2 linked regions of the Homo sapiens genome follow. Each later gene encodes a partner of the first gene's protein in a complex. Each region holds a gene or a part of one and is shown on either strand. Other genes may lie near its edges. A codon is read from its position in the direction of its gene.

Region 1 (6,348 bases):
CAATAGATGCTAAAACTATTGGATGAAAAGCTATTGTGGAATAGGATCTTCTACAAGGATTTAAATATAATCCTACAGAAGAGGTATCAATTATACAGGGGAAAATGTACCTTTACAATGGTCACCACAATAACCAAGTGATTCAATTTAGCATCACCCAAGGTGGAACACCCTAACATTATGCCCCTCCTGATGTGACTTAAGAATTTTACCTATTTAGTTTTCTTGCACAAAGTGTTAAACTGGAATTTAATCATGAGGAAATTATTAGACAAATCCTGAATGTAGTCATTCTATAAGATGATTGACTTGGGCTTCTCAAAAAGTCAGTGTCATGAAAAAAAAAAAAAGGGGAGAGACTTGTAAGATACAATGACCAAATGCAATGTTTGAATCTTTATTGTATTCTGGATATTTAAAAAGACAAAAGCTGGACGCAGTAGCTAATGCCTGTTATCCCAGCATTTTTGGGAGGTCAAAAGGGGAGGATGGCTTGAGCATAGGATTTTGAGACTAGCCTGGGCAACACAGTGAGTTCTCATCTCTACAAAAAATCAGAAAATTAGCTGGGCATGGTAGTGTGCATCTGTGGTCCCAGCTACTTGGGGGGGTGAGGTGGGAGGATCACTTGAGCCTAGGAGGTCAAGGCCGCAGTGAGCCATGATCATGTTACTGCATTCCAGCCTGGGTGACAGAGTGAGATCATATCTAAATAATAATAATAATAAAAGAAAGCAACAACCCAGCAAACAGCTATAAAGATATCTTCGGGACAATTGAGAACATTTGAATATAGACTGCATATTAGATAACAATGCCAAATAACTGTTTTCTCAGGTGTGATAATAGTATATGTAGAAAATGTCTTTTTGTTTTGTTTTATTTTGTTTTTGTTTGTTTGTTTGTTTTGAGACAGAGTCTCACTGTGTCGCCCAGGCTGGAGTGCAGTGGCACGATCTCGGCTCACTGCAACCTCTGCCTCCCAGGTTCAAGTGATTCTCCTGCCTCTGCTTCCTGAGTAGCTGGGATTACAGGTATCTGCCACCACTCCAGGTTAATTTTTTCTATTTTTAGTAGAGACGGAATTTCACCATGTTGACCCAGCTGGTTTTGAACTCCTGACCTCAGGTGATTCACTTGCCTTGGCCTCCCAAAGTGTTGAGATTACAGGCATGAGTCACTGCACCCAGCCAAAAATGTTTTTTTAGGCAATGCATGCACAAACATTTAGAGGCCAAGTGTGTCATGATGTCTGCAACTTTCAATGTTCAGCAAAAATCAACATGGAGAGAGAAAGAGGGCACACATGTGGCAAAATATTAGCCATTGTACAATTGGTAAATCTAGATGACAGTACACAGGTGTTTGTTGTATTATTCTTTGAACTTTTCTGTAGATTTGGAAATGTTCTGCGTAGAGAGAAATCTTTTTTTAAAAAAACAATATCTGGTTTTGATTAATGAGGCTATATTCAAAAGAAACACTAAATGATGTGGCCAGTTAGTGAGAATGTAGCCTTATCTTTACTGACCTCATTTTAATATTCCTACTCTGGCTGGGCATGGTGGCTCACGCCTATAATCCCAGCACTCTGGGAGGCCGAGACGGGTGGATCACCTGAGGTCAGGGGTTCGAGACCAGCCTGGCCAACATGGTGAAACCCCATCTCTACTAAAAATACAAAAATTAGCTGGGTGTGGTGGTAGGCGCCTGTAATCCCAGCTACTCGGGAGTCCGTGGCAGGAGAATCGCTTGAACCCAGGAGGTGGAGGTTGCAGTGAGCTGAGATCACGCCATTGCACTCCAGCCTGGGTGACAAGAGCAAAACTCAGTCTCAAAAAAAAAAAAGAAAAAAAAAGATATATATATTCCTACTCTTATTAAATGAATATAGCATTTCTTAGCAACTTCTTTTGATTTGTGAGTATATATTTTCTTGGCCTCAAAATTAAAGTAAAAAGTATCCTCTTACTCAGAGGAGGACAGGGGCAAGAGCCTGGGACCTTATTTGCTAATTAAAATGCACACACACACACACACACACAGAAATTTTGAGAGCCATTTTAATATAATTGCCTCCCTAGAAACATACCTTTTAGGGAATTTTTATCACTAAACCACATGTTATTTAAATACGTACATGTTTAACATAAATACATACATAAAATTCACATGCATACTTAACACTTATGTTAAATATATTCAATGTATATACATATGTACACAATATATGCATATATACATGTGGGTATGTGGTATGTGTGCATGTGTGTGTATGGCCAGCTACATAATTTGTGGGACTAAGGGCAAAATGAAACTGTACGGCCCTCGTTCAAAAATTAGGTGTGGGGTGCTTCTAAGCACAGTCTTGTGCAACTGCACAGGTTGCATGTCCATGAAGCCATCCTGTGTGTGTGCACATATGTGTATGAATATGTATTTTATATAATACATATATATGCATGTATGTATCTGAGAAGAAATGTTTAAAAGGCTACATACAAGCTTTTCCAGGTCTCTACTATCTGTTAACTAACTAGAGACATAACTCACAATATGCAGTCCCCACTGAGTGTTCACCATAATTTGAGATTCTTGGCATGTTAACTTTTCATTATGGAATATTGAATAATTTCAATATTATTCATACATTTCTTTATGTTCAAACATACACAAAAATAGAATAATGAAACTCTACCCATCACCCAGCTGCAACAAATATCAATACTTTACCGTTCTTAATACATCTAACCCCTTACTTTTTGTTTGTTTCTTTTGGTGAAGTATTTAATTGTAATTTTTTTTTTAAGAGACAGGATCTCACTCTGTCACCCAGGCCAGAGTACAGTGGTACGATCACAGCTCCTTGTAACCTCGAACTCCTAGGCTCAAGTGATCCTCCTGCCTCAGCCGCTTGAATAGCTGGGACTACATGCATACACCAACACACCCAACTAATTTTTAAATTTTTTGTAGAAATATGGTCTTGCTGTGTTTCCCAGGCTGGTCTCAAACTCCTGGCCTTGAGAGATTCTCCTGCCTTGGTCTTCCAAACTGCTGGGATTACAATATCCGGCCCTACTGGAATATTTTAAAGTAAATCTCAGGTGTTACATCATTGCACTTGTAAGTACTTTAAAATGTATCTCTAGCAGATAAATCTTTTTAACAAAACCACAGCATCATTGTCACACTCAAAAAATTGACAAGATTTCCTTAATTATCATATAATAGTCTGTATTGTTTCTATCTCAAAAATACAGTTTTCTTGGTTGTTGAAATCTAGATCCAACATTGCATTTGGTTGATGTGTCTCCTTTACTCTGTAAAATTTACCCCTGCGTTTTAGTTCTTTTCGGCTTTTATTTGTCCTGTGGAATTTCCTCCACTCAGGATTTGACTGAGAGTATCCCCAGAGTGTCCAGTTAGACCTAGAAGCTGGATTTGATCCTGGTTCATTTATTTTCCCCCAAGAATACTCCATAGGTGATGCTATACACTTTCTCTTACATCATTTCAGGAGGAACATGATGTCTGATTGTTCCACTTTCAGTGATTTTAATATTGATCAATGAGTTCTGGTGGTACCAACTACTACAAAGTTTCTCATCAATCTTTCACCTGATGGTTTTAGCAGCTATTGATAATTGTTGCCTGGATCCATTATTTCATTTCAGGGGTTGTAAAATAGTGATTTTCTGGTTCTATCAAACCTCTTGCATTTATCATCTATGATTCTTCTTTAAGGAACTTTCTCTAAATCTGAATGGGAAAGATGCGATAAATATTTATCAAATTTTAGAGTGAGTTAGTGCCCTAGCAACCTCCACAGTTGACAAATGAGTATTTCTTTAAAGCAAGGTATGGCCCAACCAATACTTTGAAACTAGCATGTTTAGAATAGAGCAGGAGGAAACTATATTTGAAAGGTCAGAAGTGGAAAGACTAAGAGGGCCTGAACAATAAGAGGACAGAACCAAGAGGAGTTGGCAACTAATTGGATGTGGGGATTAAGGAAAGGTAAGCATCAAAGATTACCTCCAAGTTTGTTAGAAGGTTAGTAGCAGGATTCTGATGCCATTCAAGTAAATACAAGTCTCAGTCAGATGAACCCCAAGAGCCACATGTATTTGAGGGGTACTTTGTCTCACACTTTTACCTGTTACATGGTTTTCAGTAATTTAGAATTTAAGCCAGTAGTGGGGCGACTGTACATCTATCGACATGGTGAGGTAGAGCATGTTTGGGAGGAAAGACGTTGAATCCCATTTGGTGACAGTGAGCTTGAGGTGCTGCCAGAACACTGCACTGAAGATAGGAGGAGACTGTAGGAAATACAAGATAGGAAAGGTCTCCACTGAAATGTTAACTCTTTCTCTCTAAACGGCCATCCAGGCCTCAATGTCTGCAGTTTCTGATCTGTGATTATGACTTATCCAAATCTTACATTTCTTAAAAATAGTCATAGATGAAGGGAATCACAGTTGATAGTTATATGGTGACATTATTGGCTTAAATTCTAAATAACTAGAAACTGTATAATAGGCAAAACTGTGAGGCAAATAAAATGCTTCTCAAATCTGTGTGGCTCTTATGGGGTTAATTTGATTTGGACCTGTATTAATTTCTTATGGCTGCTATAACTAACAAATTACCACAAACTTGGTGGTTTAAAACAACACACATTTATTCTCTTTCTGTTCTGGAGGCCAGAAGTCTAAAATGAGATTCACTGGGCTGCAGTTCACTGGGCAAGGCCATGCTCCTCTGGAGGCTTCCATGATGCATCCCATATTCAGTGTTTCCCGAGTAAGCCCCACCCATGCAGGTCTGCAGTTTTACCTCAACAGGCTTTTGCACTCAGTGGCTCTCTCCTGTGGTTTCTATCTGAAATTCTCTTCATTTTTTTTTTAATAACTGCTTTATTGAGATATAATTCACATGCCATACAATTCACCTATACAGTATACAATTCAGTAGTGTTTACTATATTCAGAGTTGTGCAACTATCATTTTTCTCACCCCCAAAAGAAACCCTATGCCCGTTAGTATTCACTCTGTTTTCTCACAACTCTAGGTAACCACTAATCTACTCTCCATCTCTATAGATTTGCCCATGCTAGACATTTCATATAAATGGAATCATACATGTGGTCTTTTTCACTGAGTATATTTTCAAGGTGCATCCCAGCTGTGGCATGAATCAGCATCTCATTCCTTTTTATTGCCAAATAATATTCTATCATATGGATATGTCGCATTTTATGTATCCATTCATCAGCTGATGGACATTTGGGTTGTTTGTACTTTTTGGCTACCATGAATAATGCTACTATGAACTTTTGTGTACAAATCTTATGTGGACTTGTTTTCATTTCTCTTGGATGTATATTCCTAGGAGAATGGCTGGATTATACAGTAACTCTTTCCTCATAACTTTGCATATCAAAATTATATCCATCTTTCAGAACCCAAATTCAGTGTTATTTCCAAAGTGTTCCAACATCTCCCACTCAAAATGAATCTTCTCCCTAGTACTCCCATTGTTTAGTACCTAATTGTTCTTACCAGTTTGTCTTAGAGCTCAGTCATTCCTACACAGCACTTTTCTTCATTATACTGCTAATTTCATTACACTGTAAGAGTGGGGACAAGCTGTTCTTCTTGTATACCAGAAAGTAGTGAGTGCACTGCTGTGAAGAAAGCAGGAACTCAAAAGTTAAGAATTTTGAATGAGCCTATAAAATGTGTCTAATAAATAATAATGTTCATTTTCAAATCTCAACAATTAAATGTTTAACAAATAACACTTGAAATAAATGTTTATTAGAAAAACCAATTTGGTATGTTAAAGTATTTATTTTGAATTTCAGAAACTACAGAATTCTGGATTTTTAATTAAGAAAATTAGACATTTTAGAATTTCTAGATAGGACTTTGAAAATAAACATGGCACAATATACACAAAAGTAAATGACAACATGACATTAAATTTTACATTGTTTTGCAGTTTCAAATTTCGTATTAATGTTCTACAACAAATTTTAAAATTCTTTTCAGTGTTTTGCTTCCCTTGGTGTTCATTATTGCCTATTTATAAAGTCATAAAAGGCCTAAAAATAACTTGTTACTCATATTGAAAGTCTGATTTTTTTTTTATTCCCTTAAGATGGAGGTCTCTCACTATGTTGCCCAGGCTGGTTTCAAACTTCTGGGCTCAAAGGATTCCCCATCTCAGCCCCCTGAGTAGCTGGGACCAAAGGCATGCACCACTGCACCCGGCTGAAAGCCTGTATTTTTATCTTTCGATGGACAACAGAGGGATATCTCCCACTCTCTAAGCCGGTC
Region 2 (6,409 bases), on another chromosome or scaffold:
CTCCACAAGGAGCCACAAAAATAATTAAAATAATTTAATATCCCTTCCCAAAGGTAACCAGTAAAGTAAGCTCTTGGCTAGGTAACTGGACTCTTGTTCACAACTAGCCAGTGGGAAAAGGTGCTAGAGCTTCCTCTGGCCACCTGTTTAATTTGATCATTCCAAGACAGAAACATTTCTTAGGAAGTTCTTTCTAGAATCTACCTGGTGTCCCTCCCACTGCTATCAGAGCCCTGTCCTCTGTCCTCAGTGGAGGTAGAGAGCAAATGGTTGCTGCTTTCTTCATCACAACCCTTCAAAGCCTATTATTACCAGCTAAGAAGGATTGGTTGACTATGGGGCCAGAGCCCCTGAGCCTGCTGGTAGAATGGATGCTGTACAGGAGGGTGGGGAGGTAGCAGGCAGAATGAGGAAAGCCCCTTTGAGCTGCAACCCCAGCTCCTGTCCTGCTGACTCAGACAGCTGACTGTGGAGCTCCATGCCCTGCCAGGGCCTGCTGCCTCCTGCCCGTCTGAGCTCCTGAACTTGGGAAATGGAGGCCCAGAGGCAAAGGGAGGTACCTGAGACAGGAACTGAGTCAGGATCAACAGGCCAGAGCGGGCAGGAGGTATCAGGCAGCCTGGCTCCCAGATGCACCCCTGAGCTCCAGCAGGGGAGGAGTAGGAATGAAGGGGCTTCCTTGCCCTTGCTCATGGCTATGCGGAGGGCGTGAACCACCACCAGGTCCTCTGGCTTAAGTGGCGGGAAGCAAATGGTCCCTCCCTGGACTCAGGCTCCAAAGTTCCTGGGCCTGCCTTCCAGGTTCCCAGTGTCCTGGGATCTCCAGCTTTCCCCAGGACTTGGGGAAGCCCCGGCTGGATGACTAGTACAAATGAAGGCCCCTGAGGTTCCAGGACCTGCTGAGGTCACAGGAATATCCTAGATCAAGCTTGTCCAACCCACGGCCCACAGGCTGCATGTGGCCCAGAATGGCTTTGAATGCAGCCCAACACAAATTAGTAAACTTTCTTAAAACATTATGAGATTTTTTTGCAAATTTTTTTTTTTTTTTAGCTCATCAGTTATTGGTAGTGTTGGTATATTTTATGTGTGGCCCAAGACAATTCTTCCAATGTGGCCCAGGGAAGCCAAAAGATTGGACACGCCTGTCCTAGATGGAGAGGAAGGAGGCAGTGCTGAGCACATCTGGCCATTCATCCATCTGGAGAGAGAAGGCTATGGGCAAACTGCTTCCTCTCCCCTGTAGACACCCAGCTGGGAAGGTCTGGCCTTTGGCTAAGTCCTGGCTTGGGGTCCTTCCTCATTTCACAGAACCTAACTCTATGTTAGTGCTTTGTGAGTATATGTTGATCATAATAAAGTTGACGGGATTTTTTCACATGATAATAATAGTTGTCATCTGGCCGGGCATGGTGGCTTATGCCTATAATTTCAGCACTTTGGAAGGCTGAGGCAGGTGGATCACTTGAGGTCAGCTGTTCGAGACCAGCCTGGCCAACATGGTGAAACCACATCTCTACTTAAAAAAAAAAAAAATACAAAAATTAGCTGGGTGTGGTGGTGCACCCTTGTAATCCCAGCTACTCGGGAGGCTGAGGCAGGAGAATCACTTGAACCCAGGAGGTGGAGGTTGCAGTGAGCTGAGATTGTGCCACTACACTCCAGCCTGGGTGACAAGAGCGAAACTCCGTCTCAAAAAAAAGAAAATAATAATAATAATAGTTGCCATCCATTCTACTGTGCTTTCCATTAACTCGTGTAATCCTCACAAGTCCCATTTTATAGTTACAGGAACTGAGGCTCACAGAGCTTAAATCACTTGGCCAAGGCCACAAACAGCTATAAGAATTACATTTAGGCAGTCTGATTCCAAAGATACTAGTCTATTCTGTATCTCATAGACAAACAATACATATTCACTTTTTTGTTGTTGTTTTGTTTTGAGACGGAGTCTTGCTCTGTCACCCAGGCTGGAGTGCAGTGGCGCCATCTCGGCTCACTGCAAGCTCCGCCTCCCGGGTTCAAGCGATTCTCCTGCCTCAGCCTCCCGAGTAGCTGGGACTACAGGCATGTGCCACCATGCCCGGCTAATTTTTTGTATTTTTAGTAGAGACAGGGTTTTCCTGGGTTAGCCAGAATGGTCTCGATCTCCTGACCTTGTGATCCACCCACCTCAGCCTCCCAAAGTGCTGAGATGACAGGCGTGAGCCACCGCGTCCGACCTATATTCACTATTTATAAATTGGAGAGAATAAGAAAATCAAAAGGGCCAGGTGTAGTGACTCACACCTGTAATCCCAGCACTTTGGGAAGCCAAGGCAGGAGGATTGCTTGAACCCAGAAGTTCGAGACCAGCCTGGGCAACATGGTGAGACCCTGTCTCTACAAAAAAATACAAAAATTAGCTGGGCGTTGTGGTGAGCACCTTATTCTTAGGAAGCTGAGGCAGGAGGATCACCTGAGGCCAAGGAGGTTGAGACTGCAGTGAGCTGTGATCATACCACTGTACTTCAGCCTGGACATCAGAGTAAGACCCTATCTCTAAAAAGGAAATTGAGAAGAAAGAAAATCAAAGGGAAGCAAAATCACTCACTCTCACTACCTCAAGATACCCTCTAGAAGTTGGTATTTTAGTGTGGTTCCTATTGTTTTCTGTGTCAGTTCTCTGATTTGAGCAAAATCTTTGGGACGTCAAACTTAAAATCCCCTTTACTTCCTTGGAAACCCTGTAGCATTAGCCCAGACATGTCCCTACTCCTCCTTGTGGCAAAGAGAAGGATCTCGTCTTTGGTCCCCAGAGTTCTGGCCTAAGCCTCCCTCCAGGAGGGAAGATGAGTGTTCAGACACTCAGAGTAGCTGGGGGAGACACAGGCCTGTGAAATTATCCTGGCTCAACTATTAGGTCGGCAGAATCCCAGTGAAGGGAGCCCTACCTCTGAGCCCCATCTAAGCTTTGGCTATGGGTGGGGCAGATAAGCAGGAATCCATCCCTATAGGCTCAATGCCAACACCCTTAGGTGAAACTCTTGATGAAACTTGAGGCCAGGGCTCCGGCAAGCAGGGAAAGAACGTTGGCAACAGAGGTCTCCATCTCTGAGGACTCTGCCAGGGGTCAGAGATGGGGCAATGGTCAAAAGGAAGGAACAGGCCAGGCACAGTGGCTCATGCCCATAATCCCAGCACTTTGGGAGGCTGAGGCAGGAGGATCGCTTGAGCCCAGGAGTTTGAGACCTGCCTGGGCAATGTAGTGAGATCTGCTCTCTATTTAAAAAAAAAAAAAAGGAAAGAACAAGTAAACTTCTGAGAAACAGGCTGGGGGAGGCATCACGTAGCTGGAATTGCTGCCCCATAAAACAGAATGGTATGTGTCACTGCCACCTCCCTTTCTCAGTCCTCTCTCTCCCCAGGTTGCTAGCGTCCCCCCTGGGGGATCAAACTGGACTGCTTCCCAGCCTCAGACAGAGAGCAGTCTGAGTCAGGCAGGAAAGTGGGACAGCCGGGGAGCTGGACCCCACCCTCTGTGAGCCCCGCTGGTACCTGATGGCATGTGGCTTGGAGAGGGCAGGTGACCTGGCGTGGAGGGCCAGAGGGTAAATCCTCAAACAAGTGGCAACAGGCCACCAACTTGAAAGGGAAAATTGTGTAGTGATGGGAAATGTGTCCAACAAACCTACTGGGTGACTAATTACAAAGGCTGGGCTGGAGCTTCAGAGGCTGCTTGTTAAACACTTCATTAAGCGGCACTCTGAAAGCTGCCACCTGCGCATTCTGGGAGCTCAGAGGGGACCCTGAGGGGGAATGAGGCCTGGAGGATGGAACCATCTTCAGGTAGACTGAGAAGGAGCCTGGATCTCACTTCCAAACACAGTCTGGAGCTCATAGGTCAGAGGCCTCAATGGGAGAAAAGCTAAAGGAAGAGGGTGCAGAAAGGAGTTTCAGGGAATTGGTGGCTATGTGACTTTGAGCAAATCTCACCCCTCTCTGAGACTTAGTGTTCCCATCTCTATGGTCCTGTGTGTGTCACAGAGACATGGTGGGGATTAAATTCGATCGTGAATATGAAAGTGCTTGGGAAACTCCATGGCCCTACCTAAACATGAGTTATCCTCACCTGAACCAAGGGGGGAAGTTACCTGGCAGGATTAGGAACCCCATCCTCCTGAACCTTTATGGGCTCTGTCGAGGCTGAAGCAGCCAGGGGCTAAAGCCGTCCTTAGCCCCTGGAAGGGCACTGTGAAAGTGGATCTGATTTGAGAAGCCGTTTCCTGATGTGGGCAGCCATGTGATGCCAGCCCCGAACAAGAGGGGGCAGCCTGGAGCCTGGAAAGGTGCCAGTGCAGGTGGGGCCCACGCCCAGATTTCTCCTGCTGACTGTTCTGATGATTCACCCCCACATCCCAGCCTTTTTACCTTTACTGCAGAGCCGGAAAGGGTGTGGGGAAGAGAGGAGAGGGAGGCAGGTCTTGGGCCCTGGTCCCGCCCCCTGCTCCTCCCCACCCTTCTCTGGGCCTGGCCACCCAGCCAAAAGGCAGGCCAAGAGCAGGAGAGACACAGAGTCCGGCATTGGTCCCAGGCAGCAGTTAGCCCGCCGCCCGCCTGTGTGTCCCCAGAGCCATGGAGAGAGCCAGTCTGATCCAGAAGGCCAAGCTGGCAGAGCAGGCCGAACGCTATGAGGACATGGCAGCCTTCATGAAAGGCGCCGTGGAGAAGGGCGAGGAGCTCTCCTGCGAAGAGCGAAACCTGCTCTCAGTAGCCTATAAGAACGTGGTGGGCGGCCAGAGGGCTGCCTGGAGGGTGCTGTCCAGTATTGAGCAGAAAAGCAACGAGGAGGGCTCGGAGGAGAAGGGGCCCGAGGTGCGTGAGTACCGGGAGAAGGTGGAGACTGAGCTCCAGGGCGTGTGCGACACCGTGCTGGGCCTGCTGGACAGCCACCTCATCAAGGAGGCCGGGGACGCCGAGAGCCGGGTCTTCTACCTGAAGATGAAGGGTGACTACTACCGCTACCTGGCCGAGGTGGCCACCGGTGACGACAAGAAGCGCATCATTGACTCAGCCCGGTCAGCCTACCAGGAGGCCATGGACATCAGCAAGAAGGAGATGCCGCCCACCAACCCCATCCGCCTGGGCCTGGCCCTGAACTTTTCCGTCTTCCACTACGAGATCGCCAACAGCCCCGAGGAGGCCATCTCTCTGGCCAAGACCACTTTCGACGAGGCCATGGCTGATCTGCACACCCTCAGCGAGGACTCCTACAAAGACAGCACCCTCATCATGCAGCTGCTGCGAGACAACCTGACACTGTGGACGGCCGACAACGCCGGGGAAGAGGGGGGCGAGGCTCCCCAGGAGCCCCAGAGCTGAGTGTTGCCCGCCACCGCCCCGCCCTGCCCCCTCCAGTCCCCCACCCTGCCGAGAGGACTAGTATGGGGTGGGAGGCCCCACCCTTCTCCCCTAGGCGCTGTTCTTGCTCCAAAGGGCTCCGTGGAGAGGGACTGGCAGAGCTGAGGCCACCTGGGGCTGGGGATCCCACTCTTCTTGCAGCTGTTGAGCGCACCTAACCACTGGTCATGCCCCCACCCCTGCTCTCCGCACCCGCTTCCTCCCGACCCCAGGACCAGGCTACTTCTCCCCTCCTCTTGCCTCCCTCCTGCCCCTGCTGCCTCTGATCGTAGGAATTGAGGAGTGTCCCGCCTTGTGGCTGAGAACTGGACAGTGGCAGGGGCTGGAGATGGGTGTGTGTGTGTGTGTGTGTGTGTGTGTGTGTGTGCGCGCGCGCCAGTGCAAGACCGAGATTGAGGGAAAGCATGTCTGCTGGGTGTGACCATGTTTCCTCTCAATAAAGTTCCCCTGTGACACTCCTCCTGTCTCTCTTCCAGTTCTTGGCGATGGGCTGGGAGTGGGACTGGAATCTGACTTAGAGACCCTGACTTTGGACCTCTGAGTTAGGGCCCTGAACTCCCTAGGTGGCTCAGTGGCCCGCACGCAAGACTTTGAGTCCAGGTGAGGCCGGGGTCCGGCTCTCTCCATCACGGCGGCCCCAGTCAAACTGGACGGGACCGGGAGGGTCGGGTGAACCCACAGGAGGCGCCGTGGCTCCTCTGCCGGGCTGAGGGGAGGTGAGTGGGAGCCACGGCGCGGGAGGCTGACGAGCTCTGGTGGAGCGGGGCAGGAAATAGTGAAGTCTCCGGCGTGAGATCTAAGGACAGCGCCGCAGTAGTGAGCGGCACTGAGCACCCGATTTGCAGGCGGGTCACAGTTTCATCAAGGGCTCAGATCTCAGCGGAGGGGAGTACGATCTGAGGAAGGGGTATAGCGCCGCCAAAAAAGCCTAGATCTTAGGAGAGGGTCACGTCCCACAGAGTTCGGAGATGGAGACAAAAGGAAACGGGCTGAAGGGGAGGAAGGACGA

What was found.
Region 2: the proteins of EIF2AK2 (region 1) and SFN are in contact, whole or in part, in a crystal structure (PDB 7OBK), measured with the Homo sapiens proteins. Residues at the interface, in NP_001129123.1 of Homo sapiens: Asn546, Glu547, Arg548, His549, Thr550, Cys551; in NP_006133.1 of Homo sapiens: Lys49 (codon at 4,759), Arg56 (codon at 4,780), Lys122 (codon at 4,978), Asp126 (codon at 4,990), Arg129 (codon at 4,999), Tyr130 (codon at 5,002), Glu133 (codon at 5,011), Gly171 (codon at 5,125), Leu174 (codon at 5,134), Asn175 (codon at 5,137), Val178 (codon at 5,146), Glu182 (codon at 5,158), Leu222 (codon at 5,278), Asp225 (codon at 5,287), Asn226 (codon at 5,290), Leu229 (codon at 5,299), Trp230 (codon at 5,302).

The regions. Positions count from the first base shown.
Region 1 is NC_000002.12:37,098,701-37,105,048, reverse strand, and holds the end of EIF2AK2 (interferon-induced, double-stranded RNA-activated protein kinase), read left to right. Parts: 3' UTR 1-5,839; downstream 5,840-6,348.
Region 2 is NC_000001.11:26,858,599-26,865,007, forward strand, and holds SFN (14-3-3 protein sigma), read left to right. Parts: upstream 1-4,550; 5' UTR 4,551-4,614; coding exon 4,615-5,361; 3' UTR 5,362-5,858; downstream 5,859-6,409. UniProt on the Homo sapiens protein: Adapter protein implicated in the regulation of a large spectrum of both general and specialized signaling pathways. Binds to a large number of partners, usually by recognition of a phosphoserine or phosphothreonine motif.